Homo sapiens: one gene and its partners. The protein of the gene in region 4 purifies or fractionates together with the protein of the main gene of each other region. This does not show direct contact. Each region holds a gene or a part of one and is shown on either strand. Other genes may lie near its edges.

Evidence for each region.
Region 1: the proteins of VEGFD (region 4) and SIL1 purify together in Homo sapiens (affinity purification with mass spectrometry; one large-scale study listed by BioGRID and IntAct). This does not show direct contact.
Region 2: the proteins of VEGFD (region 4) and ZNG1C purify together in Homo sapiens (affinity purification with mass spectrometry; one large-scale study listed by BioGRID and IntAct). This does not show direct contact.
Region 3: the proteins of VEGFD (region 4) and PROS1 purify together in Homo sapiens (affinity purification with mass spectrometry; one large-scale study listed by BioGRID and IntAct). This does not show direct contact.
Region 5: the proteins of VEGFD (region 4) and FRAS1 purify together in Homo sapiens (affinity purification with mass spectrometry; one large-scale study listed by BioGRID and IntAct). This does not show direct contact.

The regions. Positions count from the first base shown.
Region 1 is NC_000005.10:138,943,501-138,950,775, reverse strand, and holds the end of SIL1 (nucleotide exchange factor SIL1 precursor), read left to right. Parts: intron 1-3,302; coding exon 3,303-3,659; 3' UTR 3,660-4,052; downstream 4,053-7,275.
Region 2 is NC_000009.12:68,253,795-68,260,424, forward strand, and holds part of ZNG1C (zinc-regulated GTPase metalloprotein activator 1C), read left to right. Parts: intron 1-3,126; coding exon 3,127-3,186; intron 3,187-4,737; coding exon 4,738-4,775; intron 4,776-6,630.
Region 3 is NC_000003.12:93,879,834-93,884,674, forward strand, and holds part of PROS1 (vitamin K-dependent protein S isoform 2 preproprotein), read right to left. Parts: intron 1-4,841. UniProt on the Homo sapiens protein: Anticoagulant plasma protein; it is a cofactor to activated protein C in the degradation of coagulation factors Va and VIIIa. It helps to prevent coagulation and stimulating fibrinolysis.
Region 4 is NC_000023.11:15,376,083-15,382,712, forward strand, and holds part of VEGFD (vascular endothelial growth factor D preproprotein), read right to left. Parts: intron 1-6,630. UniProt on the Homo sapiens protein: Growth factor active in angiogenesis, lymphangiogenesis and endothelial cell growth, stimulating their proliferation and migration and also has effects on the permeability of blood vessels.
Region 5 is NC_000004.12:78,471,772-78,478,401, forward strand, and holds part of FRAS1 (extracellular matrix organizing protein FRAS1 isoform 1 precursor), read left to right. Parts: intron 1-408; coding exon 409-559; intron 560-1,666; coding exon 1,667-1,826; intron 1,827-3,666; coding exon 3,667-3,835; intron 3,836-6,043; coding exon 6,044-6,290; intron 6,291-6,630. UniProt on the Homo sapiens protein: Involved in extracellular matrix organization. Required for the regulation of epidermal-basement membrane adhesion responsible for proper organogenesis during embryonic development. Involved in brain organization and function.

The DNA of each region.
Region 1 (7,275 bases), on a different chromosome or scaffold from region 4:
CCTCCTCTGTGAGCTTTGGCTCTGGGCAGGGCCTCAGAGTGGCTGCCCTTGAGAGTCTCAGGGACCCAATTGCTTGCCACTTGGGAGGAGACTTGGTGCCCAGCCCTGTTTGCAAGCTTGAAGAAGCATCTTAATTAAGGAGGAGAGAGGAAAACCAGCCAGGCCTGGATTCTTAATTCAGCTACTGCAGAGAGCATTGGCAGGGCTTCCTCAGTTGCCTCTCTCGGGCCACACGCTCCCCAGAAGAGCCGCATGCCGACTAGTGGAGCAGGGCTGGGCAGCCGCTGGAACTGCTGCCGAATGGTGGAGGCTGGGCCCCTCACTCCCTCTGCACACGCCTCCCCCAGGCCTTCTCTCCCAGGCAGTGTCGGGATGGCTGTGGCCACCTCTGTCCATCACTGTCTCTCCCCAACTCTCTGTCTTTGCCTGTTTCTCTCTCTTCTCTTGTTAAAGCTGCAGAAATCCAGTTTCTTAGAACAGCAGGCAGCCATGTGGTGCTCAGATCCAATTGATAAGGCCTGGGCACAGTTCAGGTTCTGGGACTGGGCCAGTGAGCCTGGAGAAGGACATGTCAGCTGGCTGGGCATTTCCCAGGGAAACTGGGCTCTGTTCTCTGGTGTCTTGGGTGTGTGTCCCTGCTGCCCCCAGCCCTGGCATCCTGGGCACTATGGCACTGACACATTGCTAGCACACTACCACCAGGCAGGCTCACCAAGGCTGCCCCGAGGCTGCCGGCCCCGGGAGCCTGCCTCTGGAAGCTTTGGGGTGCTGACATGATTGGGGAGGGGAGGACTGGCATCTCTCTACAAACAGTACAGAAATGGCCCTCTTCTTTCAGGGAGGACAGCAGATAAATTTCAGCCAGAGAGATTTAGGACACACTGTACTTGGGCTGAGGCAGTCAGGGCTTCTCTGTTCTTGTGATTTCTTTTTTCTTTTTTCTTTTCTTTTCTTTTTTCTTTTTTTTTTTTTTTTTTGAGACAGGGTCTCTCTCTGTCACCCAGTGGCACGATCTTGGCTCACTGTAAACTCTGCCTCCCAGACTCAAGTGATCCTCCCACCTCAGCCCCCTGAGTAGCTGGGACTACAGGTCCATGCCACCATGCCTGGTTAATTTTGTTCGTTTTTTGTAGACAGGGTCTCACTATGTTGCTCAGGCTGGTCTTGAACTCCTGGGCTCAAGCAGTCCTGCCTCAGCTTCCCAAAGTATTGGAATTATAGGCGTGAGTCACTAAGTCCAGCCTCTTGCAGCGCTTAAGAATGAAGACCTAGCCAAGCTAGGGGTGGGTCCAGAGCTGCCTGAAGGTGGAGGGACATGAGCTGTCCACCACGATGGAGGGGTGCCATGCAGCTCGGGGATCACTGCAGCATGTTGTCATGACAGCCAAGGACTGTGGAATTCCCATGGGCAATGTGACACCCCCATCAGGGTGCTGGGGTCTGCCAGGCCCCAGGCAGTCCTCATATGTACCTTGGCCTGTGAGAGGACCTCTACTGAGAGACCATGCCCTGACATCTGGGCTTCTGCAGTGGTGAGATGCCTGCCTGGGGTTTGGATTCCATGGCCTCTGGTGCATCTGAGGAGCTGAAGGGCCGCAGGGGGACCCTGCCTGCCTGTGCTGCCTGCTGTGCCGGGTGCTGGGAAAATAATCCGCAGTCCCTGTCGTCCCTGAGCTTTCAGGCAGATGTTTATCAGAGAATTCCCCTGAGCTTGTGTTGTAGTCTGTCTGCTGCTGCTTTAACAGAATACCCGGGACTGGATAATATAAAGAAAAGGCAGTTTTTGGCTCATGATTCGGGAGGCTGGGAAATCCACGATTGGGTGGGTGCATCTGGCGGGAGCCTTTGTGTTGCATGACAACATTGTGGAAGGTGAGAGGGCAAGAGCACTTGCGGAAAAAAGCATGCTGGGCCGGGCTTGCTCTCTAGAATAACAACCGCTCTCCCGTAAGGAACCCGCTGCCCTCCTGACCTAGGCAGCTCCTCTCAATACTGCTGCCTTGGGAATTAAGCTTCCAACACTTGAACTTTTAGGGAACACACTCAAACCACAGCAGCATATAAGCAGAGAAGGCCAGTCAGGGGAGGCCGGTCAGTGGCGGTGAGGTGTGCAGGGAGCCGTGGAGTGAATGGGGCCAATGCGGGGGTGCACCTGGAAGTCGGAGCTGCGCCTCCAGAGGCCCCAGGGGAGAGTTAGAGTGACAGGAGTGGGTGTGAGTGGGTCCAGGCCGCGCACAGTGGGGGCAGAGCCTGCAGAGCCTCGCAGTCCCAGGGAAGGGATTGATTTTGTCTTTATCACCCGCAATGCCAGGCTGTGAGGGTTTGGGGGCTGGAGGAGAGGGTGAGAGCAGGAGGCACTGGATCGCAGGACACAAGGGACAAAGGTGGAGCTGACAGAATTGGGGTGTGTTTTGGAAGCGAAGCTGGCAGGACTGAGGGGTGAAGTAGGAAAGGACTAGGGGATACCTCTCAGCCTCTCCTGTCCCAGGATGCAGGATTGCACCCCTCCTCAGTTTCCTCTGCCAGCCCCAATCAGCCCCACGACTTCCTGCTGCCGCAGGAAGCACAGGTGGTCCACTGTGGCCTCCTCTTCTCCTGGGCTTCCCTCTTGCCTTGTGCATCTTCCCTGTGCTTCATTCTCCCCTGGAGTTAGGGCAGGCATTCCTTCTTTCTCCATACAGGCACACTTCCTACAGCTGCACGGGAGATCTCTGCCCCCTCCCAACCCTCTACCTCTGACCTTCAGGTAACCTGCCTGCTTGTCATGGTTCAGGTGTTGGCTTTCCCGCTGCTGGTAGCCCGGCAGGATTGGCTCCCACCATGTTCTGCTGATAGAGCTGGGCTTCTGCGCTTTACAGACAGGCTGAGTTTCTCCACTTAGGAGGTGATGACGATGAGTCTCAGGGAGGCTAAGTGCCAGCCATGGTCATTCAGCAAGTCAGTGGTGGAGCAGGAATTTGAAGCCAGCCTGTCTGCCTCCATGCTGCACTGTTAGATTACATTTATGCTATTTGGGAATTAGTTAATTTTTATTCTCCTGCTAGACCTTAAGCTCCTTGAGGGTAAGACTATGTCTCCATCGTGGTTTCTTCAGCACCTGGCACCACACAAGTGTTTCTGTTGGTGGATGAATGAATGAATAGACAGACAGACTTGGGGATAGAGGAAGAGGTGGGCCCTCAGGGGTCAGCCTCGTGCCTTCCTGTCTGAAGGGCAGAGCTAGCCAGGTGTGAGCTAACTGCTCCCTGTGTGTTCTCTCCCCACCCCCACCCTACCTGGCCTGCGGCTGTGGCGGATGGCAGATGTTCGCCGAGGAGGAGGCTGAGCTGACCCAGGAGATGTCCCCAGAGAAGCTGCAGCAGTATCGCCAGGTACACCTCCTGCCAGGCCTGTGGGAACAGGGCTGGTGCGAGATCACGGCCCACCTCCTGGCGCTGCCCGAGCATGATGCCCGTGAGAAGGTGCTGCAGACACTGGGCGTCCTCCTGACCACCTGCCGGGACCGCTACCGTCAGGACCCCCAGCTCGGCAGGACACTGGCCAGCCTGCAGGCTGAGTACCAGGTGCTGGCCAGCCTGGAGCTGCAGGATGGTGAGGACGAGGGCTACTTCCAGGAGCTGCTGGGCTCTGTCAACAGCTTGCTGAAGGAGCTGAGATGAGGCCCCACACCAGGACTGGACTGGGATGCCGCTAGTGAGGCTGAGGGGTGCCAGCGTGGGTGGGCTTCTCAGGCAGGAGGACATCTTGGCAGTGCTGGCTTGGCCATTAAATGGAAACCTGAAGGCCATCCTCTTTCTGCTGTGTGTCTGTGTAGACTGGGCACAGCCCTGTGGCCGGGGGGTCAGGTGAGTGGTTGGGTGATGGGCTCTGCTGACGTGCAGGGCTCAGCCCAGGGCATCCAGGAACAGGCTCCAGGGCAGGAACCTGGGCCCAGGAGTTGCAAGTCTCTGCTTCTTACCAAGCAGCAGCTCTGTACCTTGGGAAGTCGCTTAATTGCTCTGAGCTTGTTTCCTCATCTGTCAGGAGTGCCATTAAAGGAGAAAAATCACGTAGAAAGCTTCACACTAGTGCTGGCACCCCCCAGCTGTGAGGTAAGGCAGGGAATCATCTCACTGCCCCTCTATCGGTGCCCACATAACAGCCTCAAGGCCGCTGACCTGGCCGGCGCCTGAGGCCTGTCCATACACTGGTGCTGTGGTGACCCAGGCAGCTGATGGGCTTGACAGCTGCTGGAGTGATGGGTGCTGGAGCAATGGGTGCCGGGGTGGGGTGCTGAGAGGTGCTGGACTCTGGAGGCCCAGGGGCCAGGCCTTACTCTGGGAGAAAGCTGGCAGTGGGAGCCCAGGGGAGCCCAGGCCTGCCTGGCCCACCTGACAGGGGAGAAGTGCCTCTCTGTGGCCTTGCACCACTTCTGTGTCCAAGCAGAAACAGGGCCAAGCCCAAGGAGGAGGCCTCAGAGCTGGGAGCAGCCGTGCCTGGCGAGTCCCGGCCCCTACCCAGGCTGGCGGAGTCCCGGGCTGGAGCTGGCTGCAGGTTGCCATGGCAACCCGGGCTCTGGGCTTTTCAGACTCGGATTCTGGTGTGTTTGTTTCTCAGCTTTCCCAGTGCACCAGAGGCTTGCTCTTGCGGGCCCAGGCAGCCCCTCCGGCCCCCAGGTGGTAAAGTCGGGAGGGCCAGTCTGGGGCAGGACTCTCCTCTCCCTGGCTCTAGGCCTCACTTGTAGAAATCTCAGTTTTACTGAGCTGAGGGCAAATTGAGGCCCAGAAAAACATGGGGTCAGTAGTTGGCCTTCCCTGCAGTCCCTTTGCTTGGCCACCTGGCTCTTCTCCTCAGCCCCTCTCCTGCTCGCCTCTTGCCGCAACACGACACGCAGGAAGCTCGGAGCAGAGCCACGGCCTGCACGGAGCCCCTCCCAGCAGGGCAGGCTGGAGGCAGGAGTCCAGGCTGATGCTGGAGTAACAGCTTCCCCAGGGCGGGAGGCCTCAGGGCTAGGGCAGAGTGGGGAACAGACTCGCAGTCTGCCAGCCATTGGGTACCTGCTGCCTTTACAGCCTCGCAGGAGTCTTCGAAGTAGATTTTACAGATGAGGAAATCATGGCTCAGAGAGGCCAAGTGATCTGCCTGTGGGGGCAGCAGTGGGCCTGCGGTGCTGATGGTGCTGTGGGAGGCTTGAATGGGAGGCCAAGAAGGGGACGATGTTGAACTGACAGGCAGCGGAGGGAGGACCACGAGAAATGGCCGGGCATGTGTGGCCACAACAGGGCAGGCAGGTTTCAGACAGGAGGTGCCAGCGCCTGGATGAGGCCAAGGTCAAGGGGTGCTTTAGAGGTAGTGTTGGAAGATCTAGCGTAGACTTGAGAAAGGGGCAAGGTGAGGTTTGATGGGGAGAGGGGCTGCCTCAGCAGAGGCTTGGAAGACAGGAGGACTTGGGGCTGGGCTGGGGATGAATCTATTCTAGGCTTTCAGCATTCAGAGGTGAGCACCAAGGCTGGACAGTGGGAACAGTGGACAGGCGAGAGTGTGGGGCCTTGTGGGGAGGCCAGGCCGGGCGCTCGGCTGTGTCAGGACCAGGCTGGCCCTGGAGGCCTCTGTGACCACCAGGGTCTGGCCCGGGGTGTGGAAAGCGTCCCTATGGGAGGAGTGCCACTAGTAGGGGCCTAACTGCAGTCCCCAGTGTCCCCTCTGCCCCCAGGTGTGCTGCCCTCAGCAGCGATTCTGTAAAGCAGAGGGAGGCTTTGGGCCAGGTGCTCTTGAGAGGATTTCTGGGAGCGAGGATGGAGGAACGGGCACCTGGGGGCTGTAGGGAGGGGGCTGGACCAGCGCCAGGCTGCTGAGCCCGAGGCCTGGGAGGTGGGACTGCGTGCACTCTGCCCTCACACACTCAGAGCATCGGAATGGGAGTTGGGCTGCAGTCTCTCTCCTCATTGGCCGCATCCAGGTTCGTTCTGGACTGTTAAGCAGACCCTCCAGGGAGAGGGTGGCGAGGCGCCCCAGGGTCTGGGCTTGGGCTGCTTGGGGGTGGGTTCTGGCTCCGCCTCCTGATTCATCGCGGCTTGTTGTCTGCAGGTCAGGAAGGAACCCCTTCTCTGCCTTCCCTTTGGCTGCCATCCTGGGAACTGTGGTCAAGGAGTGTGACCGGGGCTCGAAGTGAGGCAGGGAGTGGTGACGGGGGAGGTGGGACTTCCTCCTGTGGGGCTGGAGCCTGCTTTCCTGTCCTCACTGTCTTGGGATGGGCTGAGAGGTGTGCTGGGCTGACACCCACAGGCCCTCAGTGATTATTGGGTCCCTGCTCCTGGGCTGGGCTGACCCGGGCCCTAGTGTGGGAGGATGGCAGGGAGGGTGGTGGGCCTAGGTCCTCACCCCATCCCTCAGCAGCTGTGGTTTTATGAGTTCACTTGTTCATTCATTATTTCATTCACACTGTGGCTGTTGAGCAGTCGTGTGTGTCAGGCAGTTGGAGCTGAGAAGTCTGCTGAGCTGGGTGAAGCCAAGGAAAGGCCTCCCAGAGCTGGTGATGGCCAGGCTAAGCCCTGCAGGCTGCAGGAGTAGCAGTCAGGGATGGGCAGTTGGAAGGGCCAGTCTGGGGCAGGCAGGGCAAGGGCTCTGGCCCTGGGAAGATACAGGAAGGCCAGAGAGTGGCCATTTGCAGAATCCACAATTTCGGGTCCTCCGGCAGCTTGTCAGCCCTGCCAAGGGCTGTGCCCTCATCCTAGCAGGTGTTCTCTGGGCTGCTGCTTATTCATTCATTTGTTCAACAAATCTGGTTGGGTACTACGAGCCAGGCACTGTTCTAGGGCAGGAAGTGGTAGGACAGGAGGGGAGAGGGCTGGACCATGATAAATACACATGCTTCAGGGGAGGGCCAGGCAAGGAAGACAGAGCCCAGTGGGAAGGGAAGAGGGGTAGGCACTGCTGTTTCCCCTCAGTGGTGGGGAAGGCCTCTGAGGAGGGGCCAGGCACAGGAGCGCAGCAGTGAGCCATGGGGGTGCTTTGTAGACAAGGGGATAGCAGAGGCAAAGGTCCTGCAGGAACAGGCCAAAGCACTTCAGGAAAAGCCATGAGAACCAGGCCTGGAGCAGGCAGAGACCGAGGGAGGAGTTGCAAGGGAGGGCCGCCTGGGGAGGCTGTGGAAGGGACCTGGGATTTTCTTTGAGGTGGGGCTGTTGAGAGTTGGGTGCAGAGGAGAGACCTGATGTAACCCACCTTTTTCTTTTTGAGACAGGGTCTTGTTCTGTCACTCAGGCTAGAATGCAGTGGTGTGACCATGGCTCACTG
Region 2 (6,630 bases), on a different chromosome or scaffold from region 4:
ACATCTAGTGTTACTGTAGAAAAGTCTGATTTTTCTCCCTCCCTCCTTGAAGGCACTTTTTTTTTTTTAATCTAAAATGCCTGAGAGTTTTCTTCTTTATTTTTGAAATTCAGTAATATAAACAAGGTATATCTAAGTGTCACTTATAATCATTTTTCCCTAAATTATAATATGCCCTTAGTTCTTCTAAGAACATTTTCCTTGTTTGTTACCATGAATACTTTTTTTTGGTCAAATTATTAGATCCTCTACTTCATGACACCAGTTTTTTTAATACTGAATTTTCTTTTGTTCTTCGTATGTATTCTAATTGCTTTGATTTGTCTTTTACCTTTGCATTTACTGTGATCATCTGAAGCCTTTCTTTTTGTCAATAATTCTGTTTTCTCCAGTATCTGTCCTGTTTTTGATATTTTAAATGAATTAATTGGTTAAGTCATTGTGTTATATAGGCTCTAAGTTTCTTTAGCACTACAAACTGCATTTTCATCTTATTCTGCTTCTTGCTTTTGAGCTTGTTTATTATAAGGTTGTATTGTTTTCAAGTTCTTCATTATGATGAAGTTGTTGAGAATTTTCTTTAGTTTTTATTGGGTTATGTATCCTTCCAGAATGGGTTCTTTGCCACTTGTATGCCCTATTCATTTCTTCATTTTGTGTTCTTTCTTGCTTTTTATTCCCTGTATGTGTGTATTTCTTTTTGTCAGGCTGTAATACATATGCATACAAGTTTCTTCTTGATATGGGAGAACTTCTATGTGGTGCTGATGGGAAATATTTTTAATACTCCACTCTCCTTACCCAAGTTTGTTTTTCTCCTGAGCCCTAGTTTGAAAGCTGTATATTGTTGGAGTGGAGGGAAAGAGAAGGGAAAAGTGGTGATTCAGAGAGCCAAATGGGGCAATGTGGCTTTTAGGCTCTGCTCTCTTGAAGTACCAAGTATTTCACTCTTGGGTCTGCCCAACTGCTTATGAATAAAATTCCTTTGCCTTGTATGGGGACATCATTCGACCTCAGACCTCTCATTTCTCTTTGTTCTGAGCCCTAGAATGTGACCTGACCTTCTCCTTCCCAAAGCATGGAGATGGTTAAAACTCACTCTTGAAATTTTTTTGTTGACTTTTCCCTCTGTTGCTTATTCATTCCTCGGCTCTACTTTTTGCCATTTTGGAGTGTATTTCTGGTAAGTGTTTAGGATTTTGTAAACTATTTCCCTACAACCTCTTATTGGAGGTAGGGGTAGAGTTGGGAATGACCATCAATCACATATAACTTTGTTTCTTATTTTGACTATCAGTCTTCAAAATTTATGGCAGGCCCTTTTATATTTGGTTGCTGCTAATAAAATGTTGGCCTTTTTGTTTTATTTTTTATTTTTATTTTTTGTTTTATTAGATTTTGAAGAAGGGAGATTCTAAAATGTAGTTCAGGTTTTCTCAGTGTCAGCACAAATAACATTTTGGGTTGGATAATTATTTGTTGTGAGGGGGTTGCCCTGTGCAGAGTAGGATATTTAACAACATCCCTGGCTTCTACCCACTAGATGCCAGTAGCATTCCCCTAGTTAAGACAACCAAAAACATCTTCAGACATTGCCAAATATTCCCTGGGGAGAAAAGCACCCTGGTTTGAGAGCCACTAATCAATTTTGTTCATTCATCTTTACTCCTCCTAAATACCTACATCCAAATTTTAAATAGATCTTTCTCATGTAGTCTGGCAAGTATTATATCAAAGATAAATACCAGTTTTAGAATAAAGCATTAATATACTCTTACATTTCAACTTAAGAGGCAAATATTAACAGTAGGATTTGTAAACTATTTATTAGACTAAAAATCAATGAATTTTTAAAAATTACAAAATGATTTATGTATGTTAGATATTTTACTGAGTGAAAAAATTCATGCTTTTTTAAATGACTTATTGTTTGGAGTAGTGATACAGTAGATTTAATTTTCCCCCTCATTAATTAAAATCATGTTTTAGCCAAGAAAGTGAACAGAATTCTTATTGGCAATTCAGTTGTTTCCCATTTTGGAGACTGACACTCTCCAGTTCTAAGTTAAATAATTGTCATGGTAAAGTAATTTCCTTGAAAAGAACGGACATTGATTCAGCCCCTGTTACTCACAAATCCTATTTGAGTCAAATTGGAAAACTATTACGTTTTTGGGAAAAAAATCAATAGGTATCAGGAAACCATTAGATCTTGTGGCCCTTGCTATATCTTGCATGAGTAATCACTGTAAACAGCTGACCGGTATTTCATTGTTGACACAGAGTGATGCTTGGGGGACCACATCTTGTCAGAGCAGGTGGACAGCTTTAGACGTTGGAATGAGTTTGATTATCCTTGTTTTTCTCCTACACTCATTCTTTTAGACAGCCCTGTCACTAACTGGGCCTGTGATGCTTTCAAAAATCAAATACTTTCCTTGCTGTCAGTTTTCTTTTTCTTGCGTTGTGGCATACTAATCAGGGTATGTGGTTTGGTACTGAACCAATTTCTGTCAAAAGCAAGTTTTAATTTATTATTTAGGAAAAATTTTTCCTAAGACCCAGGTTTTATACAGTCCTAAATAAATAGTGTGAGGAATAATTAGTAATGCCATAGAGTATATAATTTTACTTCTAGTTCTACACAGATTACAAGTAAATTTTTTTTGGGCAAGTGATTTTGGAATTATCTATGTTTTGTTTTCCTTTTCCTTTAGAGTGATAATTCACTATTTATGATTGAATGATTATCATATTAAAGAGGTGAGAAAATAAAAATAAGTCTGATGTGCACAAAGCCATACTGCTCAAATTGTTTGATAATATCTGTTAATTAAATTATTATGGCATCGGTAGAAGAATGATGTTTTGTTTATATGTGGTTAGAATTGGTCTTTTTTAAAGGAAATAACGAGAGATGGAAATGGAATGGGTATAAATAGTAAAAGGTTCTATCACTATAATTCCCTTTTGCTATAAATAGTTAAAGCTTCTATCACTATAATTTCCATAAGAAGATATATGTGTTTACCTGTTAATTTTATCAGGGCAAATTAAAACATGGATAGAATCATGTTTCTCAGTGTGAAGAAATATTTTTATTTGATGAATATTATATATTTTCAGGTGCAGTGGCTTCTATGTTTTGGGTTGATGCTGAATTAGGGAGTGATATTTACCTTGATGGTAAGTTAAAAAACAGTTTTCTTTTATCTTTCTTGGTTTTTTTTTTTGTTTTTTTTTTTTTTTTCTGAGACAGAGTCTCACTTTGTTGCCCAGACTGGAGTGCATGGAGTGCAGTGGCATGATCTCGGCTCACTGCAATCTTTACCTCCTGGGTTCAAGTGATTCTCCTGCCTCAGCCTCCCGAGTAGCTGGGACTACAGGCGTGCACCATCGTACCTGGCTAATTTTTGGATTTTTAGTAGAGACGGGGTTTCGCCATGTTGGCCTGACTGGTCTTGAACCCCTGACTTCAGGTGATCCGCCAGCCTCGGCCTCCCAAAGTGCTGGGATTACAGGCGTGAGCCACCACACCCTGCCTCTTTTGTTTTTTAGTAAAATCTTTATGGTTAAGCTTATTGTTGTTCATTCATATTATAACTTTAATTCCTTGCATTGTTGTTCTTTTCACACTTTAGTTTAATGATGAAATCTTTGTTCATATAGATTAAAAAACCCCAAACAGTGGTGGAAATCGATGTCACTCAACTTCCAATTTAGTGCTTCCACTAAGGTTTTCTTTAAAAAAAAAAATGCTTTGTAGGTTTTCTGTATCCTCTGTTGTTTGATTTATGCCCTTAATATAATGTTAGAGCCTTTTATTTTAATCCTCCAGGCAATATGAGGATCATATTTTTGCTTTTATTTTCTCTTGAAGATAAGAATTAAACACTCCTCCCTTACTTTATTTACCTGAACACTTTTGGGCAATGATATGCCTTCATTTAAAATATATTAGAAACTTTCTTAGTTAAGCGACTATGTTTTCTCCCTTTCTCTTTCCCTTTTTCACCTTTTTAAAAACCAGTCGAAATTTTCTTACTTTTTCAAAAGTAATAATCATTAAGAAATTTAAGAATTATTAAGCTGGGCCCCATCATTGAGCTCTAATATATGTGGCGGGTAACTGGTTGAATTCCTTAGCATAATTAAACTCATTCTTTTGTTATCAGCATATATTCAGAGATTGCAAAATGAATTGGTAGTTTGGAAACTTAGGCATATGTTATGTAAAACATTTATGAGCTGGATTTGGATTTGGATTTGGTGAGAGATGTTAGGAATGATACCTTAAGATGTCTCATTCTTTAGGCAATAATTTAAATCTTAAGAAAAGTCTTGATTTTGATTATGTGAAAATAAACTAGAAATAACCTGTCTTATGTACTTATCACATTTGACTATGTTATGAAATTTGACTTATATTTTGGATTGTAAGCTTTTTCAGTGCCAAGGAAATCTTATTTTCTTATTTATTTAATTTAAAATTTTTATTTGTTTTATATCTTCTCTAGTGCCTTAAAATAGTGCTAGCCACTCAGGAAATGCATTGACTTATTACTGGAATTTAATTAAATGGCAGCACTGGCAAGAGAAAAAAACAGTACATTGTTTTATTGAGTAGTATTTGTGAACTGAAATAGGTTAGTTTTAATTTTCATTCTGAAGTATGGTTGCACAAGTATTAATAAGCATTCTTTTTAAAAAGTGATTAAAATGTTTTTTCCTTTGTAGGTATCATAACTATTGTGGATTCAAAATATGGATTAAAAGTAAGTTGAAAGATTGCTATGAGTGGCTCATTATTGAGAGCTGGGAATATGGGGATTGATTGTTTAATTTTCTTTATGTTTGTATCTGAAATTTTCTTTAACAAAAACCTTTCTCAAAAAGATATCCTGAACAATAGGTGAAATTTGTGTTTTAATTATTAGTTTGTGTTAAATATTTCTTTTCTATTACTCTGAGTTTGATTTGGTGATAAAATTTGGAATTATAATTTGTAATAAGCATATGGGGTTAGGATAGAGTTTGGTATGTATAGCTCTTCACAAGGATTCAACCCCAATATTGCTAAGTTTTTCTGTTCCATAGAAGAAGCTGAGCTTGATAAAGCATCTGAGATCTTATTTTTCTTGTTAAATTACTATTAAACACACACTGGAAATGAGTTTTTAAAAAATATTGAAGACCTAGGTGATGGGTTAATAGGTGCAGGAAACCACCATGGCACCCGTTTACCTATGTAACAAACCTGCACATCGTGAGCATGTACCCTGGAACTTAAAATTTAAAAAGTACATATTGAAGAAAATCAGGATATACACATAGGATTAGTAAGAAGACTCTCTCCATTAAAAGGCATCTTGCATCGCTTCTTGGTCTTTTGGCTAAGATCAAGTGTAAAAGACATCCTGCTATGAATGTTTTTGTTAACTTCTAAGGTCCTAGAATGCATTTAAATGAGGTTTAATTTATAAAATGCATTTAGTAAGATCTTTAAAAGTATGTTGTTACATACAGTAAAATGATGTTTCTCAACTTCCCAGGTGAAATACCACTAAAGGCAGAAGAGAATGAAATCATCCCACCCACTGACCCGTTCCCAATCTGAGCATATGGATAGGGCCCAAAGCAGTAAGTTCTTAGAAGTTTAAATTCAGTGTTTAAAAATTAGTGTCTGTTTTGTATCCAACCTCATATCTGAACGTGTTAATTTTTTTTTTTTTTTTGAGACAGAGTCTCACTCTGTTGCCCAGGCTGGAGTGCAGTGGCACCATCTTGGCTCACTGCAACCTCCACCTCCCAGCTTCAAGCGATTCCCTTGTCTCAGCCTCCTGAGTATCTGGGATTACAGGTGCACACCACCATGCCCAGCTAATTTTGTATTTTTAGTAGAGACAGGATTTTACCATGTTGACCAGCCTGGTCATGAACTCCTGACCTCAAGTGATCCACTTGCCTCGGCCTCCCAAAGTGCTGGGATTACAGGCATGAGCCACCACGCCCTGCCTGAACTTGTTAATGTTTAAGTTTGCTTTTTTTTCCCAAATCTTTGCTGAAATTATGCTCTAAGGGGATATGTCAGGTTTGTCAAATAGCTACCAATACCTCTTCACTGGGCCTTCTCTCCCTCGTTGATAGAGTGCCCTAATTTGAAAAGTTTGGAAGAAAACTCCTTTTTTAGAGTTTAAAATCTCAATTTATGAATTTATGAATATAATTTAAGAATCAAAGAATGATCCCAAATACAGTATTACAGTTTCACGCAGAAAAATTCCAATGACTGTTGGAAATCATATTTCTTGCAAAATGCTTATGGAGGTAGCAAAAAAGCCCCAAATTATTCATTTTGAATGTTTATTATAGGCATGTTTGAATCTACCTCTTCCATAAATTTATTACAAAATTTGATATACCTATGTGACAGATAACTGCTAAGACATTTTGTTTTTTTTTTATTTTGATAGACTGAAAATGCCATGCTAAAAGTCAAACTGTTTATGTATTTTATGATTATAGGAAAAATTTTATATGTATAGTTGGGTATGGAGAAGAGTTAAATAGAATCTATTATCAGCATGACGGAGGCCAAAAAAACAAAGCAACATTCTGAATAATGCAAAC
Region 3 (4,841 bases), on a different chromosome or scaffold from region 4:
CCTTGTTTTGTGAATCTCTTGTCATAATCCTTCACATTCTCTTTCTTAATTACTAGGTTAATTGTCTATCCCACTAACATGCAAGCTCTAGGAGGTATATATCTCTATCATTGCTTTGTTTTCCCCAGCACTCACTCAATAGATATTTGTTGAATTAATATGTTTCCAGAATAGTTGGATTACTAAAAATATTAGTTCATAATCTGAATGAAGTCTTCCTCATTTAATATGATGTAACATACAGCAAAGCCCAAATACCACACGGAGCCCTTGAAAGGGTAAATGTGAATAAGGAAAATCATTTTCCTTTGACAAGATGTTCTTCCACTTAGCCACATATAATGTCACTGTTTTTCATTATAATCCTGTAACTCCCATCCAGAAGAAAAAAAATATATAGACCGGGTACGGTGGCACATGCCTGTAATCCTAGCACTTTGGAATTGCCTGAGCTCAGGAGTTCGAGACCAGCCTGGGCAACATGGTGAAACATCTCTACTGAAAAAAAAATACAAAAAATTAGCCGAGCATGGTGGTGTATACCTGTAGTCCCAGCTACAACTCGGGAGGCTTGATTCAGGAGAATCGCTTGAACTCAGGAGGCAGAGGTTGCAGTGAGCTGAGATCACGCCACTGCACTCCAGCCTGGGAAAAAGAGTGAGACTCTGTCTCCAAAAAAAAAAGAATGTTTATATGTAATCATTGTGAAATAAGTAATTTTTAATTGATATATCATAATTGCACATATTTTGGGGTACATATGTCATTTGATAAATGCATACAATGTGTAATGCTCAAATCAGGGTAATTGGAATTTCTATCACCTAAACATTTATCTTGAAATAAGTAAATTTAACACAGAATATTAAACTCAAACTAAAATGAACACACGAATGTATAGAAGTTAAAATGTAACATTAAATATTAATTACAAAGTAGATCACTTACAAATTATCCATGAAATGATTAATTACTTATTAAAGTAATTTTTTTAGATACAATATAACTCTTATTTTCATTACCTTTTCAGGATTTTTTTCCTTTGGCCAAATCACCATGGATTTAGTTTTATCCTAATTTAATCCTCACCCCATTTATAACTTTAAAAAAATCTTTCATAGGCAGAACAGAACTAGGCATTGTATCAATTTGTGTTAGAAAAAGGGAAATCATTTTTGTAAAATTTGTCCTTAAAAATACAGTAAAAAAGGCTGGGCACAGTGGCTCATGCCTGTAACACCAGCACTGGGAGGCTGAGGCAGGAGTATCACTTGAGTTAAGGAATTTGAAAACTGACCTGGGCAACACGGGAAGACCCTGTCTCTGCAAAACATAAAAATTAGCAAGGCATGGTGGCATGTGGCTGTAGTCCTAGCTACTTGGGAGGCTGAGGCAGGAGGATTGCTTGAGCCCAGAAGGTCTAGGTTACAGTGAGCCATGATTGCACCACTGCACTCCAGCCTGGATGACAGAGAGAGACCCTGTCTCAAAAACAAACAAACAAATGTAGTAAATATAGACTACGAAAGATGGGAGGGTGGGAGGAGGGTAGGGGTTGAAAAATTACCAATTGGGTATCATGTTCACTATTTGGGTGATGTGTACACCAAAAGCCCAGATTTCACCACTACACAATATATCACAATATATGCATGTAAGAAATCTGCACTTGTACCTCCTAATTACATAAAAATTTAAAAATGTATTTTAATGTAGTAAGCACTTTTTTTTTTTTTTTTTTTGTGAGACATGCTCACACTCTGTCATCCAGGCTGGAGTGCAGTGATAAGATCCTGGCTCTCTGCTGTGTCAACATATTGGGCTCAAGCCATCCTCACACCTCAGCCTCCTGAGTAGCTGGGACTACAGGTGCATGCCATCAGGCTTGGCTAATTTTTGTATTTTTTGTGAAGATAGGGTTTCACCATGTTGCCAAGGCTGGTCTTGAACTCTTGGGCTCTAGCTCTTTGGGATCTGCCCGCCTCAGCCTCCTAAAGTGCTGGGATTATAAGTGTGAGCCACCTTACCTCGCCCTTTTTAGGTTACAAATAAACACAATTAAAATGTAATTTTTTTCTTAAAGCAGAGATATCACATTAGTGTTAACAATTTATAATGCAAAGTGTTAGTAGCTCAAATAATGAACTACTAAAAAAGAAAAAGACAAAGAATTCAATAAAATAATTAGAATTTATAAATAGCTAATAAACATATGGGAGGATATTCAAGTTCAGTAGAAATTAGAGAAATAATATTAATATTCAAACCTACAAAATTTAATTTTTGAACTATCAGATTGGAAAAAAACTAAAGCATACACTTTCTCATTCTGTTGGTAGAAATATTAATTGATAAAAGATTTTTGGAAAAGAATGTAATTGAACCTCTAATAATTATATATTTGCATAACCTTTGATAGAGATAACCTAATTCTAAAATTTTCTTCCATAGAATTAATCACATAAAGGTAGAAGGATGTATGATTTAGGATGTTCACAGAAGTATTACTTCTAAGGTTAAAAACCTAGGGTCAGTATGGCAAGATTCCCTGCTCCACTTAGGCTGTAGAAAAGTGGAAAGGGCACCACTCCCACCCTTACAACAACAAAAGCCAAATTATCTGCATAATCATGACTTTTCTTGAAACTATCAAAGAGCTGAGGTCGCAGAGCAACAAACTAACCAGAAACCTAAAGAAAGACAGGTGTTTCCAAGGAAAGCCAGAATGAGAACACTTTCTAATCCAGGGCAGACAGGAAATGCCATGCAATTTGGTAAAAATAATTTAGGTAAAGATTTAAACAAATTGCTGAACTCCATGTAGGGGCTGACGTAAGAGTTTAGAAGCCCTAGAAATTACAGACACAAAGACAATTCATGCTCATTCACAGGCTCTTCTCCACAGACCTTACCATGCACTCAAGAGAAAACAGAGTGCAGGGAAGGAGATCCGAAAAAGCCTCTCTCTTAATATGGTCCTGAAAGCAGCACCAGCTACAGGGAAGCCACAAAGCCCCATCTAGATCCTTCTCGGTCTCCTCTACACAACACAAGTTTTCAAGCCAGGAGAAAGGCAGCAAACCTTGTCATTAGGACACATATGAAGACTCATTGCAACTACAGATTAGGAAGAACAAACAAAAAAAGCTATCTATCATGCAGAAGGAGCAAGAAAACATATTGAGTCCTGATCACTAGACATCTCCCCTACTGATGAGAGTCAGGGAAGAGGAACAGTGAAAATTCCACACTCCTGAGACCCAGGGATACAACACCTGCCTAAGACTGAATTTGTACGACAACAACATAGAATGCTTCCCCAACCTCCGCATCTTCTCTGCCATGTTAGCAAATGTCAGGTAACAAGAGCACTCTGCTAGGGGTGGGCAAGACACTTGAGAGACACAAGTGGGAGAGACATTTTCTTGAGGCGTATTATGGAGGGAATACATAAAACTGAGCTGCTATGATGAAAAACTCTCTAGGCCAGGCACGGTGGCTCAAGCCTGTAATCCCAGCACTTAGAGAGGCTAAGGCAAGCAGATCACCTGAAGTCAGGAGTTTGAAACCAGCCTGGCCAACATGGCAAAACCTCGTCAAAAATACAAAAATTAGCAGGGCATGGTGGCGCACCCTTGTAATTCCAGCTACTCAGGAGGCTGAGGCATGAGAATCACTTGAACCTGCAAGGTGGAGGTTGCGGTGAGCCGAGATTGTGGCACTGAGCTCCAGCCTGGGTGACAGAGTGAGACTCAGTCTCAAAAAAAAAGAAAAAAAGAAAGAAAAGAAAAAGAAAAACTAGCTACCAAACCATTCCCTTATTCTAAGCAGAAGGTAGTATTTTGAAAATCTGAGGCTGGGTGCGGTGGCTCACACCTGTAATCCCAGCACTTTGGGAGGCCAAGGGGGTGGATCATGAGATCAGCAGTTCAAAACCAGCCTGGCCAAAAACACAAAAATACAAAAATTAGCCGGGCGTGGTGGCGGGCGCCTGTAGTTCTAGCTACTCAGGAGGCTGAGGCAGAAGAATCACTTGAATCCAGGTGGCAGAGGTTGCAGTGAGCCAAGATTGCATCACTGCACCCCAGCCTGGGTGACAAAGTGAGACTCCATCTCAAAAACAAAACAAAACAAAATAAAAGATCTGAAACCTGTGGTGCATTAAGGGTAATCCTGGCACCAACAAAACTTAAGAAGCTCAACTTTTCACTAGATTGATTCAATCCCATTACTAAGAGCCTAGCAAAAGAAATGTGCTCATTTCCAGACACAAATATTCTTTATCTCAGTCTCTACTGTTATACGTAAGATGCCCAAATCTAAACCAAAAATTACATGGTACACAAAGATGCAAGAAAAACAACACTTGGTCAAGGGACAAAGCAAACAAAATGACGAGACTCAGATATGACACAGTTGGAACTACGAGACAGGGAATTTAAAATAATTATGATGAATACATTGAAAACTCAGTACATAAACTAGACAAGTGTGAACAGATAGGGAATTTCAACAGGGAGGTAGAAATTTTAAGAAAGCATCAAATAGAAATGCTAGAAATGAAGATGAATCTTTCTGATGCATTCATTGATAGACTCCATACAAGTGAGAAATCAGTGAACTTTAAAATAGGTCAATTGAATTTACCCATAAGGAATCAGGCTATGTACTGATAAACCTGAAATAACAACACAAGCACATTCAAATGCCTTTATATTTTTCCCAATACACTGAAAAATTTTTGTAAAAGGTATATAATAGTATGAATAAGCATAAGACTAGAGTGGGCACACAGTAGATACTCAATAATGTTTCACAAATAAATTATTACTGTTTGTTAA
Region 4 (6,630 bases):
ATCAAGGGCCCAGTGTGCCACCCAAAGCCTTTATGGTGATTAGGCTATTGTTAAAAACATTTTCATTTCCACTCCTGACTCTCTGAGGGAGGGATATATTTCCCAGCCCTACTGACCAATAGGACATTACAAGACATGATGCAAGGAGAGGCTTGAAACTCACATATGATTGCACGTTTTTCTATTTCCACCATCATTGCAAGCACATGCTCCTGCTAGCCCACTGATCAAAGGAGGATGAGAGACACCTGGGGCTGACCTGCACCAAACCTAAGCCTTGAGCCTTAATCCTCTGACTCCCAGCTGACTTGGAGACATAAGTGAGAATAAGGTAGTGATGTTTTAAGCCACTGAAATTTGGACTGCTTTGTTACACAGCATTATTGTGGCAATAGCTAACTGCTACAGCCCTATTCCAGCTAAAGTATAGCATAATCCATTGGATGGGAAAAAGGATCCTTATGCAAAACTTTATTGTCCCTTCTACAAAGCAGCCTTGCTATGCCAGCGGCAGTCAGCCCAGAATACCCTCTTTCACATTTCTTCCCTAAGGATCTAGTGTCCCATATCAAAATCCACTTATCTCCTCTTCCTCTTCCTTATCAACATCCTCTGCACTCTCTAAGATGCCCAATCATCCCTAGTCTTGCTGTGACAATGTACTTATAAACGAAGCACACCATTGCAAAGTTGTTTTCACTTTTTCATTCCACTCTGTTCTTTTTGTGAGTTTCTTATTTAGGGTGTTTTTTTTAGCATATTCATTCAATCAAAATTACACTCTTTCTAACACTCTCCATAATGGAACAGTAAGTAACAGCAAGAATTTGCCATAGGGACATTCAACACATGTTATTTTCTCTTTCCAGAAGCAATGTTAGCCAAACCTAGATTTCAGGAAACCAATACTTATCTCCAATATGTGAGTGTTATAGTTACTTAGGAATACTCAGTGAATGACAAAAAGAGAATCAGCATAAAAATTTACATTACTAAAGTTTCAGGCATAAAATTATCCTTCCCACTGGCCAAGTTGAACTCCCTGACTGTTAGTAAGACATGCAAATACTTAAGACATCTTTATTTTATAAAAACATCATTTCCACTCATATGCCTGGCACATGGTAGACATTCCACAAATATTTACTGAGATGAATATGTGTCTTTCCTTTTCCCAGGGAGAAGATGCCTCCTGAGAAATAAACCTGTCTTCCTTCAGCACACGTTACCCCATTGACCAGCCATGGTTGTTTCCCATCTTCACTAAAGTTGTTCTGAATGTGGTAATGTGATTTCCTAAGCAAAGTATACGTTCTTCCGTGCATTAAAGGAGGCATGACACATGACAGAAATCAGTGAATTTTTTTTATTCCATCTCCTTCTACTCCTCCCAAGTTGTCTCAATACAATTCATTTTCCAGCACTGCTGTAAAATTGAGAATGTTTTTGACATTCTACAGTCAAAGGTGTGTTCAGAAGCACTTAGAAGTCACCAATGTGAAGAACTCACCATGTGTCACAGTCATTAATACGGTTTGTCAAATATTTCCATCTCTCTGCCTTCTGAGCGCATGGTGGGATTGCACTTCCTGGCCCTTTGTGGCTAGATGGGGCAGTGGGTCAAGGGGCTGCAACTAGAAGTAATATGTGTCACTTCTGGGCCAGAGAATTTAAGTGCCAGGGTGAGGCGCTCTCAGGCTCTCCCTCCCTCTGTCATAGTGATTCCTAACATTCAAGATCGGATACTCAGCCAGCTTCATCCCCATGTGGATTTGACCCCAGATGAACCAGGCTGGTCATGTGGTATAAGCAATAAATAAGTCTCTGTTGTTTATGAACCACCAAGATTTCGGGGGTGTTTGTTTTCACAGCATATCCTGGCCTAACCTGATAAAGTATCTGACCAGAGTATTTTGCCATAATTTACCATGATTTTACAAACAACCTAACATAAAATGAAAGCATAGGTAGCATTTCTAAGGCTCTCAGGGATGAAGGAAAACATCAAGATGTTGAAGTTTTGTCCAGACCCCTGTGCAGCCAAATGCTACTTTGCTCATCTCTCTTTCTGTTACCAACAGGCTGGAATAATGGGCTCAGATGACTTCCTTCTATACCTCTGGCTCCTAAAAGGGAACGCCTTATAGGATGGCTTGTGCCTGGAAGGACAGTGGAGAAGTCTTTGATACATCCACACAAACCCTATCCTATGCCCACAGGAAAATAGCACAGGGTGAATATACTGCCTTAAAAATGCTTTAGAATTTTTTTTAAATCATGAAGTCAGACAAGCCATCATGAGAGTAGATGTTGGAGATGATTTAATGCAGTAGTTCATATCCTGATCCTGGGTATCTAAAAATCCTGAGGTCTAGTCCATCAATCAGTCAACAAATACTGTTTTTAGTATCTACTCTATTACATACAGGCTTTTCACTGGTGATTGGGATGCTGCAGTAAACAAGACAATTAAGAGCTCCTTTTCTCAAAAAACTTGTATTCTAGTAGACGGTGACAAAGCAATAAATGTATACACAGGCAAATAAAACATGTCAGGTATGGATGTGTACCATGATGAAGATAAAACAGTGTAATAATTTATATATAACACAATTGCCAAACTATGACCCATGGGCCAAATCTAACCTGCAGCCTGTTTTTGTATGGCCTGTTAGCTAAGAACAATTTTTTACATTTTCCAATGGTTGAAACAATTTTTTTTTTAATTTCATGATGCAGGAAAATTACATAAAATTCAATTTTTAGTGTCCATAAAGTTTTATGGGAGCACAGTCACACCTTACATGATCTTCTCTGGCTACTTCTCCAACCTCAACAACTGCACTTCTGGCCTCCACTCACCCCACCTCCAGCTGCACCGGCTCCCTGGCTAATACCCAGACATCGAAGCCAACTTGCTGCGCCCACCATGGCCACTGCACTGATGGTTGCCTCTGTCTCTCTTATTACCTTCAGGACTCTGTAGAGACATAACTGAATCAGAAAGGTCTCCTCTGATTTATTCAGTACTGTATCCGCTCCCCCTACTTGATTTTCTTCATAGCATTTATCACACCTGACATGTTACACATTTGCATATTGTCTGCCTCTACCCATCACACTTGGAATGCAAATTCCAAGAGAATTGAAACATTGTCTTATTTCCTGCTGCATTCCCAGCCCCTAGACTTATTTCCTGCTTCATTCCCAGCCCCTAGATCAATGCCTAGATATATTGGTGCCCAATAAATACCTGTTGAAAAAAATAAATGAATGAATTGTCAAATATTGGAAAGCTCTAATGAGAGACTAGGCAGATTCTTTATGAACTAGGACATCACAACCAGCTAAGGCTTTCATGATGCAGTAGCAGGGGGCCTCAGGGTGTGTTTGCTGTATAATGCCCTAGTGTCTTGGTAGGGACTGCAAGAACTAGTGGCAAGGAAGACAGAAGAGTGAACTTACCACCAGAAAAGCAAGGGAAGAAGAAATGCTTCCATGTCATCTTTGTCTCATCTCAGTCACATTCCCAATTATATACAGTTTCCACTCTCTCTGTTCATCCTAAGTTGTAGAAAAAAGTTGAGCCTAGAAATGTTCTCAGAAACAATTTTACTGTCATTTGTGTGCCTATTTCTGTAGCACCTCTATCCAATTGTGGTAATAATAAATGTATCTGGGAGTCCCAGATCTTATTACCTCAAGTTCTACATGGAATCATGTGTGTGGACAAATACTATATTCTCATTCCAGAAATTGTCTCTGGGATTTATAGTAAAGGTTTATCCACAGGTCTAAAACAGGATTTTTATGTTAAGAAATAAGTCATACAAGGAAGTACTATATTGAAGATGTAAGATATTGAGGATTCTATTGTATCCTGGGTACCAATAATACGCTATAGTGATATAAAAGTTTCAGTCACCAGTTATAAGTGAGTAACTGGATTAAAACAGATGTGTATAGAAGCATATAATTCAACACACTTAACTACAAGGTCATAAATAAAGAAGAAATTAATGGGAAGTATTTCAGATGTCTTTTGTGCCAAGGACTGTGTCTGACAGAAAAGTGGACAAAAGCTTGCTGGGCCATTTGACCAACATCAAAGTCAATGGACTTCCCTGTACATGACTTTGGAACTGGAAATCGGGCAGGGAGAAGGAGTGGGACTGCTTCCTGGAATTAAATATGGAAAATACACCTCAGTCCTTGTTATTTGATTCACTGTAGAGACAATTTCAGGAGAAGGCAAGTAACACAAATGTAAAGAAGTCTTGTGAGCCATGTGGCTTCTCATGAAAGAAGTATCCCACATTCCTGTGGATCTTGGACTGATTCTAGTCTTACACAGAATGTGAATGACTCCATCACCCACCAATATTCTTCTACCAGTGTAATTAAGAAAGAGGGTGGATAAAAAAAGACAGTACACAGGGAAGATAAAGCAGAAAGAAACAAATTCTGTCAGAAAAAAGTTGTGAAAGCCTACTATGGCCTGGTATTCCTTTGTTGCAATAGTGACATGTCTTCATTAGTGACATTGAAAAGATTTATGAAGGCTGGCTTTCCCCAGCATCTTCAGAAGACTCACAGAATTTCTGGGGGACAAGAATTGTTTATTAAATAAACCAGAAATAGTGCTGGCCAGAAGGCCAATGTGAATGAGAGAAGAGTGAGGATGTAGATACTTATTTACCAAATGTCCAGAGTGTCTACCACATTGTACTTAGGGCTGTCACATACAGATATGTCTATATGCATGGAGCACCCTAGAGTTGTGCAGTGCACATCGTGTACAACTGTATATGACTGTCTGAGCTGTATTAAAAAGCTGGAGAAAATAGAAACAGAAATAAATTCCACATCTAGGCCGTAATCTGATTATATTAATGAACGATGCATAGGTACTGGGTTAAGCTTATTTCTAGAGGAAAACGTGTTCTTCTTAGACTGAGAAACTTAACAGCTAAATAGTATACACAGTGGATTTGAAATCTTAAGTTGAGATTTTCAAACAGATTTGTCTCAGTTCACATGTTCCATGCACTGCTGACTCCAAACAGCTATCCTTGCAAACACAAGTGGTAAGACTAATGAAATTAGGAGGCCTTACACCCAAATGGCATTAAGCACAATCGTCCAGAGCACTAGTAGCTATTTCATGATTGCTACAGGAAAAAAAAAAATCTTCACAGATACCTAGAACTATCGTAGAGGCAATGCTAGTCTAAGCTGGAAAACTGGACAATCTTCAAAGCTAGAAAGTGAAAACTGGGCTGGGGGTGGCTGGAGGACAACCTAGGAGCAAAATTGGCATCACCATCCATTCTGGAAAAGAGGTGGTTAGAAGAGGGGAGGGTGAGGAGAAAGAAATACATATGGACCAAGTACCGAGGAAGACCATGAATTTCTTATAATAAATAAAACATTTTATTTCAAAAAGTAAAAAAAAAAAAACAAAAAATTCAAATACCACCACCCTAAACCATTACCACCATGAATATGTTTTCACACTACATTTTAATTTTAACAAGAAGAACTTTAACATTTAGAAACATTATTTCCTCTTAGATTTTCTTTTCTTAAAAGTTGGGGAAAAAAGAAAACTATAACCAATATTATATATCTCATTATCCCTTACCACTCAGTCATATCTATGCCAAAACTTCTGTTTAGCTATAGGCAATCCTTTCCTTCATATCAGAAATAATTTAATTGAGCGAGGGGTAGGGTGGATATAAGTTCAGTATATGTAGCTTCACTTTTTAAAGGAAATTCTGATATATTCTGAAAAAAAATTGCTAATCGTATTAGTAAGTATATAATGCTGCATCCTCCACGTGTAACAACTTGTTTTCTGTCACATGCAAATTCAGCTGCTTTCCTTCGTTACTCCATTCAACAAATTTATATATTAACAGTACATTCAAAGCATTTAAAACTTCACAGTGCCAGCCGGGCGCGGTGGCTCACGCCTGTAATCCCAGCACTATGGGAGGCCAAGGCGGGCAGATCATCAGGTCAGGAGATCGAGACCATCCTGGCTAACACAGTGAAACCCTGTCTCTACTAAAAATACAAAAAATTAGCCCGGCATGGTGGCACGTGCCTATAATTCCAGCTACTCGAGAGGCTGAGGCAGGGGAATCACTTGAACCCGGGAGGCAGAGGTTGCAGCGAGCTGAGATTGCATCACTACACTCCAGCCTGGGTGACAGAGTGAGACTCCGTCTCAAATAAATAAATAAATAAATAAATAAAACTTCACAGTGCCCAGGACACCTGAGACATTCTTGGTGCTTGTGCTCTTTGAAAGAGCTGAGCAACCTAAAGAATATGACTTATGTCCAACAATTCAGTCTCCTTTATTATACCATCAGATAAAGTGATGTTTTACAAGGAAAATGGAAATATTTTAAAACTCGAGGAGCCCAGCACATCTAAAGGATTTCTGTTTCATGAACTTACGAAAAAGCTGGACAGTCGGAAAAGTCTTACTTGCTTCAAACAAGTCAGACCGTTTTCTCCTGTTACCTATGCTTACAGTCAGATTCCCATTTACCTACAATCTGGCCTTGAGATCCAATATCAAGGCTGGTGGCAGTAAAATGGAGCCAAACACTGTGA
Region 5 (6,630 bases), on a different chromosome or scaffold from region 4:
CACCTTCCCTGTACTGAATTATTCTTTCAAAGTTCCAACTTTCTTTCAAGGCCCAACTCAAATCCCACTGCCTCCAATCCATCCTCCTTCAACTCCAGATGAAATTAATCTTTTTCTCTCTCTCTCTTTCTCTTAAAAAGTGTGCAGCCCTCTTTTTATGTCTTCCATTACAGCTCTTGCCACATTGACCTTGTGCATGAGCCTTTCTTTCCCTATTAAGTGTGAATACCTCAAGGGCAGAAGCTGGAATGGTTTTCATCCTCATAGCCTCTCCAATCCTGACAGAGCTTTCCATGCAGTAAATACACTCAGTAAATCATTGTTGAACTGAATTAAATCTGAGTCAGAGGGTCTTGTTCCTGCTTTATTCCCACCTCAGGAATTAAATTAAATGGGTTTCTATTCTAGGCAACCAACCTGATCACCAAGAAGGAACTGCTGACCATGGACCCAGACACCGAGGACGCGCAGCTTGTCTATGAGATAACGACGGGCCCTAAGCATGGCTTTGTGGAGAACAAGCTGCAGCCTGGCAGAGCTGCTGCCACTTTCACCCAGGGTGGGGACTCTCTGGGAACTTAGAAATGGGAGAAATCTATGCTAATGTCACACTGCCTATCTCCCAGATTCTTCTCACAGCCACTTCCAGCTACTTATGCCCAAGTAACCACTTTGCAGAGATCTTCTAGTGCTTAACCATCCAACTTAAGAATTTTATTTCTCCTGATTTTTTTCCCTGTGATGATGAACTATGGCAAAGAAAAATTCACCTTTACCGTGCTTCCTCAACTCCTAAATTGCTCTAAGTGTTGGCCAGGTTTTCTGGAAAAGAATGCATGATGCTGCTTGGTTTTCTTTAAAAACAATAACAACAAGAAAGCAAAAAATAACAAGCAGACATTATGAAAGATCTGTGATCCTGTGTGATTTATTTTTTGTTCTCTAAGGATTATAGACTTTAAGTCTTCAGCCTAGAAATTAAAATCAACATGTATAGGTTGCTCAACAGAAATATTTTCCCTGTTTTGAATCATCTCAAGCAGGCCATGTTAAGCTTGTCAGGCTCCTCTAGACTTTTTTCAGGATTGACTTGACTGGGAGCAGTCATTGCAAAACTGCATCTCAAAATTCATGCTCCATGAATTTTCTTTTTACTCTCTGTCCTCAATTGTATGTTCTCTCCTCACACCTTTTTAGCTGTGCTTTGTGTATGGGAAGTTTTAACCCAACCCCAGCTATTCTTATTAGCACATACCTTCCAAAGAACCTTTATTAGAAGGAATTAGGTCTGAGTATGAGGCTATAAACACAGAGGATGGAGTCAAAGACTTTCCTCTGTCAACTCTAGGATTTGCCATCAACATTCACAGACATTTATTGAAGTGCTTTTTGTCAGGACCCTGGGATTCTCATTTTATAACAGCATAAGAGATATTTACAATATCTCTGTACTTAAAGACAGATCTTTTTTTTCACAGAGCTTCAGGATTTTATTTTAAAATCTGACAGAAACATTTATTTTAACAACTACTATACTTTTGGTGCTTGGAAAAATAAGTTTTGTCTGTAATACATTAGAAGAATAAACTAGGTTTGTTGGTGTGGTAATCTATGAAGCTGTCGTTACATCCCTGGGTTAATTCACAGTGAGTCTTTTTTCTCACAGAGGATGTGAACTTGGGGTTGATTCGTTATGTGTTGCACAAGGAGAAGATCCGTGAGATGATGGATAGTTTTCAGTTTCTGGTGAAAGACAGTAAACCCAATGTGGTCAGCGACAATGTCTTCCATATCCAGTGGTCACTCATCAGCTTTAAATATACCAGGTACAAGTTTTACTGTGCTTTCCTTCTTGAGAAATCAATCAGGCAAGCAGAGGGAGTCAGGATGAAGGATGCTGGGGGGCAGCTCTAGTCACCTCTTGATGGCGGTGATGGTGATGATGGCAGTGATAAAAGTAATAATTTCACCAAATATTTATTGAGTACTGTATGTATTAGGTGCTGCACTAGGACTCGACATGCATCATCTTATATAATACTTGGAATTCTGAGATGAATTCCATTCCTGTCTCCACAGTGGCAAAGTAATAGAGACAGAAACTTGTTTATGTAACTTGTCCACAGTCACATAGCTAATAAGAAGTAAGACCAGGATGTAAGCCCAGTGATCTTAACGATGTGCTCTACTGCTGCTCAGACAAATGTTTTTGCTTCTGTCTCTTCAAGTTTTAGAAGAGAGTCTAGTAGAACTGATAGGAAAAATAAAAATAGGCATTCAAGTTTGGAAAATAATCACTGGCCCACACTATCAATATCTTCACCTTCCATCTGTATTCTCCTTGTTCCCAACCCTGTTTTCTCCCCTGGCTTCTTTGGGTTTGGTAGGAATGTATATCTGTAGGGCTAAATGCATGGCTTAATGTGGACAGCCCTTTAAGATGCTTTTCTAATCTGTTGGAGAGTTAGAAAGGCAAACAGAGAGATACTGATTGTTAAAGGTAGTGTGCAAGCATGGTGCTGATTTTATAGGTTAGATTATAACTAGGATTATAATTTATGTGGGGGAAATATTCTTTAAGTCTACATTTCAGAGACTCACTATCCAAGAAATCAACTTCATGAAAATTCAGATAAAAATTGGAACTTGGGGGAAAAAAGGAAGACTTAAAACCTTGATTTCATGTGCCCCAAATTCAGGCTATTCTACTCTTACACACATTTGGAGAATTAGAGGAAAATTAGAATCAACTTTTACATATGTAATGTTTTGCTGTTATTTACCTCTCAATTGTATCACCTTCAAAATTCAATAAATTCAATAAAATTCATCCCTTTTTCTGGACAACCCTCTAACATTTAATGGACTAAGTGGTATAGACGGTCCCAAAGCTGGCAATGAGGACTGAGCTCTCAGAGTCACTTTCCCTGCTGTCCTCACAGCAACAAGACATGCACCCAGGTCTAGGGGCCATCCTCAGTGGTGAAAAACAAAGCCCAGCTCATGCCCTACTTTCTGTGGCCTTTCCAAACCTAGATACTTATTATGAATCAATAGCATATGAATAGTTGGCCTTCTACTTTACAAATGCAATAGAGATTCTGAGCAGCAAGCTAAATTAATCATGTCCTTCCCCCATTGTCATAAAGTTCTATTTGTCTAAACATCTCTGTTATGTAGGCTTACCTCACATTTTCTTACCTCTGCTTCTGCTCTGACTCCATCACACAGTTCCTGGAGATCTGGTCCAGTCAGTTCCCACCTAAGTCATTGATTGCCTTCAGAGCAGCTTTCTTCCCTAAGAACCCACTGACCTATTGTGATTACTCAACCCCAGGAGGGAGAGATTGTTTTTCCTTTCTCTGTGCCCTGAAATCTGAAGTTCATTGCTCCTATGTGCTGTCCATCTCCCAAAATGACTCTTAGCTTGCTTGCAAAGCAGGGAAGACGACATTCTGCATCCACAGCTTCCCTGTTTGTTTCGTGCTCTGATTGTTCAGGTGAACTCATTCCCTCAATTTACAGCCTGGATTCTTAGAGGAACCAAACTTCCTCTTCTCTGACTACCTAATGCCAAGAACCAAATGGAAGAGACAGGCATTAAACAAGTTGTTTTTTCATAACCATGGGGCATAGTTTAAGAGATGCCTTTTTGTGTGCTTCCAGCTACAATGTCAGTGAGAAGGCAGGGTCTGTCAGTGTCACGGTGCAGAGGACTGGGAACCTGAACCAATATGCCATCGTCCTGTGTCGCACCGAGCAAGGCACCGCCAGCTCCAGCTCCAGGGTCAGCTCCCAACCTGGGCAACAGGACTATGTAGAGTATGCTGGCCAGGTAGGTGGGGTAGTGGGGTTGGGGGAGGCTCCAGCAAGGGCTGTGACATGGCTGCAAGCAATTGTGGCACTTTCCTACTTCTTCCCAACTTTGCTTTTCACTGGTGTCCTTCTTCAAGTATTAAATAGTTTTCCTATGTTCCCCTCCCATAGTACTTTGTTCTTCACAGTCTCTCTAACCTCCATTGAAGTTTTAACTGCCAAAGGGGAAGTTGTTGTCTAGCTTCTCAGTCTTTACATTTTGCTTCATGACAAAAAGAAGTCTCCAAGCATCATGTTCTATATTCAGCTTTGGTATCCCAACCGTTCTTCTCCTCTCACCTTCTTTACCTAAAGGGAGAGAAGAGAGTGTGTAAGGAGACTGGTTGGGAATCCCTTGGGGTAGGCTGGCTGAGATGATGGGAGCTTGGGCTTCGATTATGAAGTGAAGTTTGAGAGAAGCGGATGGATTTGACAGATGAGTGAGAATTGATAGGATTTGGCAGTGGATTGATTAGACAGTGGGGCCATTTGAAAGATGGATGATGATGCCTCTTGCTAGGAAGGGACATATAAGAGGAGCCGGTTGGGCAAGGTTTGGTGCTCGTGACTTTGCTTTGGCTATGTTAGGTATAAATTGTCTTAGAAAGAGCAGGTTGACCACTGTATAGATGGGCAGGCAGTGCAGAGAGGAGTCTGGTGTCCAGAGAGAAATTTGCAAGTCATCTACATACCAGTGGTAATTAAAGGTGGCAATGAGAAAGAAAAAGGAGAGAGTGAAAGTGGAAGAGAAAGGAGGACTTAAATAGTCAACTTAAATAGTCAACAAATACAGGGCCCCATGTATTTGTCATCTTTTATGGAGGGCACAATGTCTGACACTTAATTTTTTTTTCAAAGCAACTTTATTGTTATTATGGCAACACAGATCTCTGTAAAGAGAAGTGGGCTCTGTTCTTTAATTGAGGCATTTCAGCTGGACTAAGCTAATGTCTCTAATGTCAAATGTAAGTGAGGAATTAGGAAAGAACAGATAAGCTAATGTCTTTCAGCTAAATGATAAGACGGAGGATATTCTTGTGTTTTTCAGGGAAAGACAGAAGACTGTCAGTGTATTCTAGATCTTACATAAAGATCTGTTGAGTGTTTCATTTCACTGGGAGTGTTTTAAAATATGAAGCTTAATAAAAGTGTTATTAGTTGATTAGATATATACTAATAATTTTCTGTTTGAGTAAAATTTTTGCAGATTTGTGTGTCCCCAGACATTTATGTCTGTTTTTTGTACATATTTCAGTTATCTCCGTTTACACAAAGTATAGTCCAGGCTCATTTCCTGCAGTTTCAGTTTTGGGCAAGTCCATAGTCGTGGTTTCACTTGAAGATTTTTAATTTCTTTCTTTTTAAAAAAAAAAAAAAACAAAGTAAAACCAGAATAAGTCCCTATAAGTTCACAATTGTGTACATATAAAATAATTTCTCTGTTTTGTACTGGGCTAAATTGATTCACATTTTAATGGCAAAGGGTGTAGTCAAAATATCAAGTTAAAATTAGTCTACCTTGTTTATAATGTAATTTTCTATGAATTTAAATTCCATTATTCAGTACACTGGAATTCTATGTCAATTTTAATTGTGTAAGTAATATGGTGATACTAATGATAATATCTTATGTTTGTTTGGTACTTTAAAATACACTTAACACCTTCATATACAAGACCTCCTTTAGTCCTCCCAAGAAGCGTATGAGGTAGGAATATTATGACTTTTCTTTAGTTGATGAGGAATCTGATGTTTGTAAAGCTTCATAACCTAATACAGCTTGGAAGTAACAGAACCAGATCTGAGAACAGAACTTCATACTCCAAGGCCAGAGTTCTTCCAGAAAGGGAACTGAGTCATCAAATGATGACTGTTGCTGCCCCAAGTGAGATAATAAGACAGGCTATAAAGAGTTACTACATGTTTTTCTCCAGTCACCAATGGTAGGAGAGATTTTGCTCCTTCATGTCCTTATACAATAAAGCAGCCCTCCTGTACAGGTTAAGAATGGGAAGAGGTGGCTGGGTGTTCCAGGTGATGCAGCAGGGAACCAGGGCTGGGAGAACCAGCTATTTCAGTCAGTGCTCTGCCCACTGGACTTGGATGCTCTTTTCCTATGATGCCCTGGGGAAGCAGAGCAGGGGAAGCTGAGGCACAGCTTAACTTCTTGTTGGTTCCTTTGTGACAGGTCCAGTTTGATGAGCGAGAGGACACCAAGTCCTGCACCATTGTCATCAACGATGATGACGTGTTTGAAAATGTTGAGAGTTTCACTGTGGAGCTCAGCATGCCAGCTTATGCCCTGTTAGGGGAATTCACCCAGGCGAAGGTCATTATCAACGATACCGAGGATGAACCCACATTAGAGTTTGACAAGAAGATCTACTGGGTTAACGAGAGCGCTGGTTTTCTGTTTGCACCTATTGAAAGAAAAGGTCTGTTGGTTCCACAGGTGACAAAGAGCTATAATAATTGCTAACATTTATTGAGTTCCTATTATGTGCTAAGCACTCATCTCATGCATTATCTTAACTCACATGTGTACTTTCCACTTATTAACTCATTTGGTTCCCACAACAACCCTGATGATGATTCTATCCATAGTGACTACCATCAGAAAGCCTCTTTTCTTAGTTCAAGTTGTTAGAGCTCCCATTTACTCTTAAATTGGACTAGAAGACTGGTTATATTTAGCCTTCTAAATTATTCATGAATCAGTATTCTTAATCAATCACCCAATCCATAAAATATTTAGTAACCTTGGTCAAGGAGGGA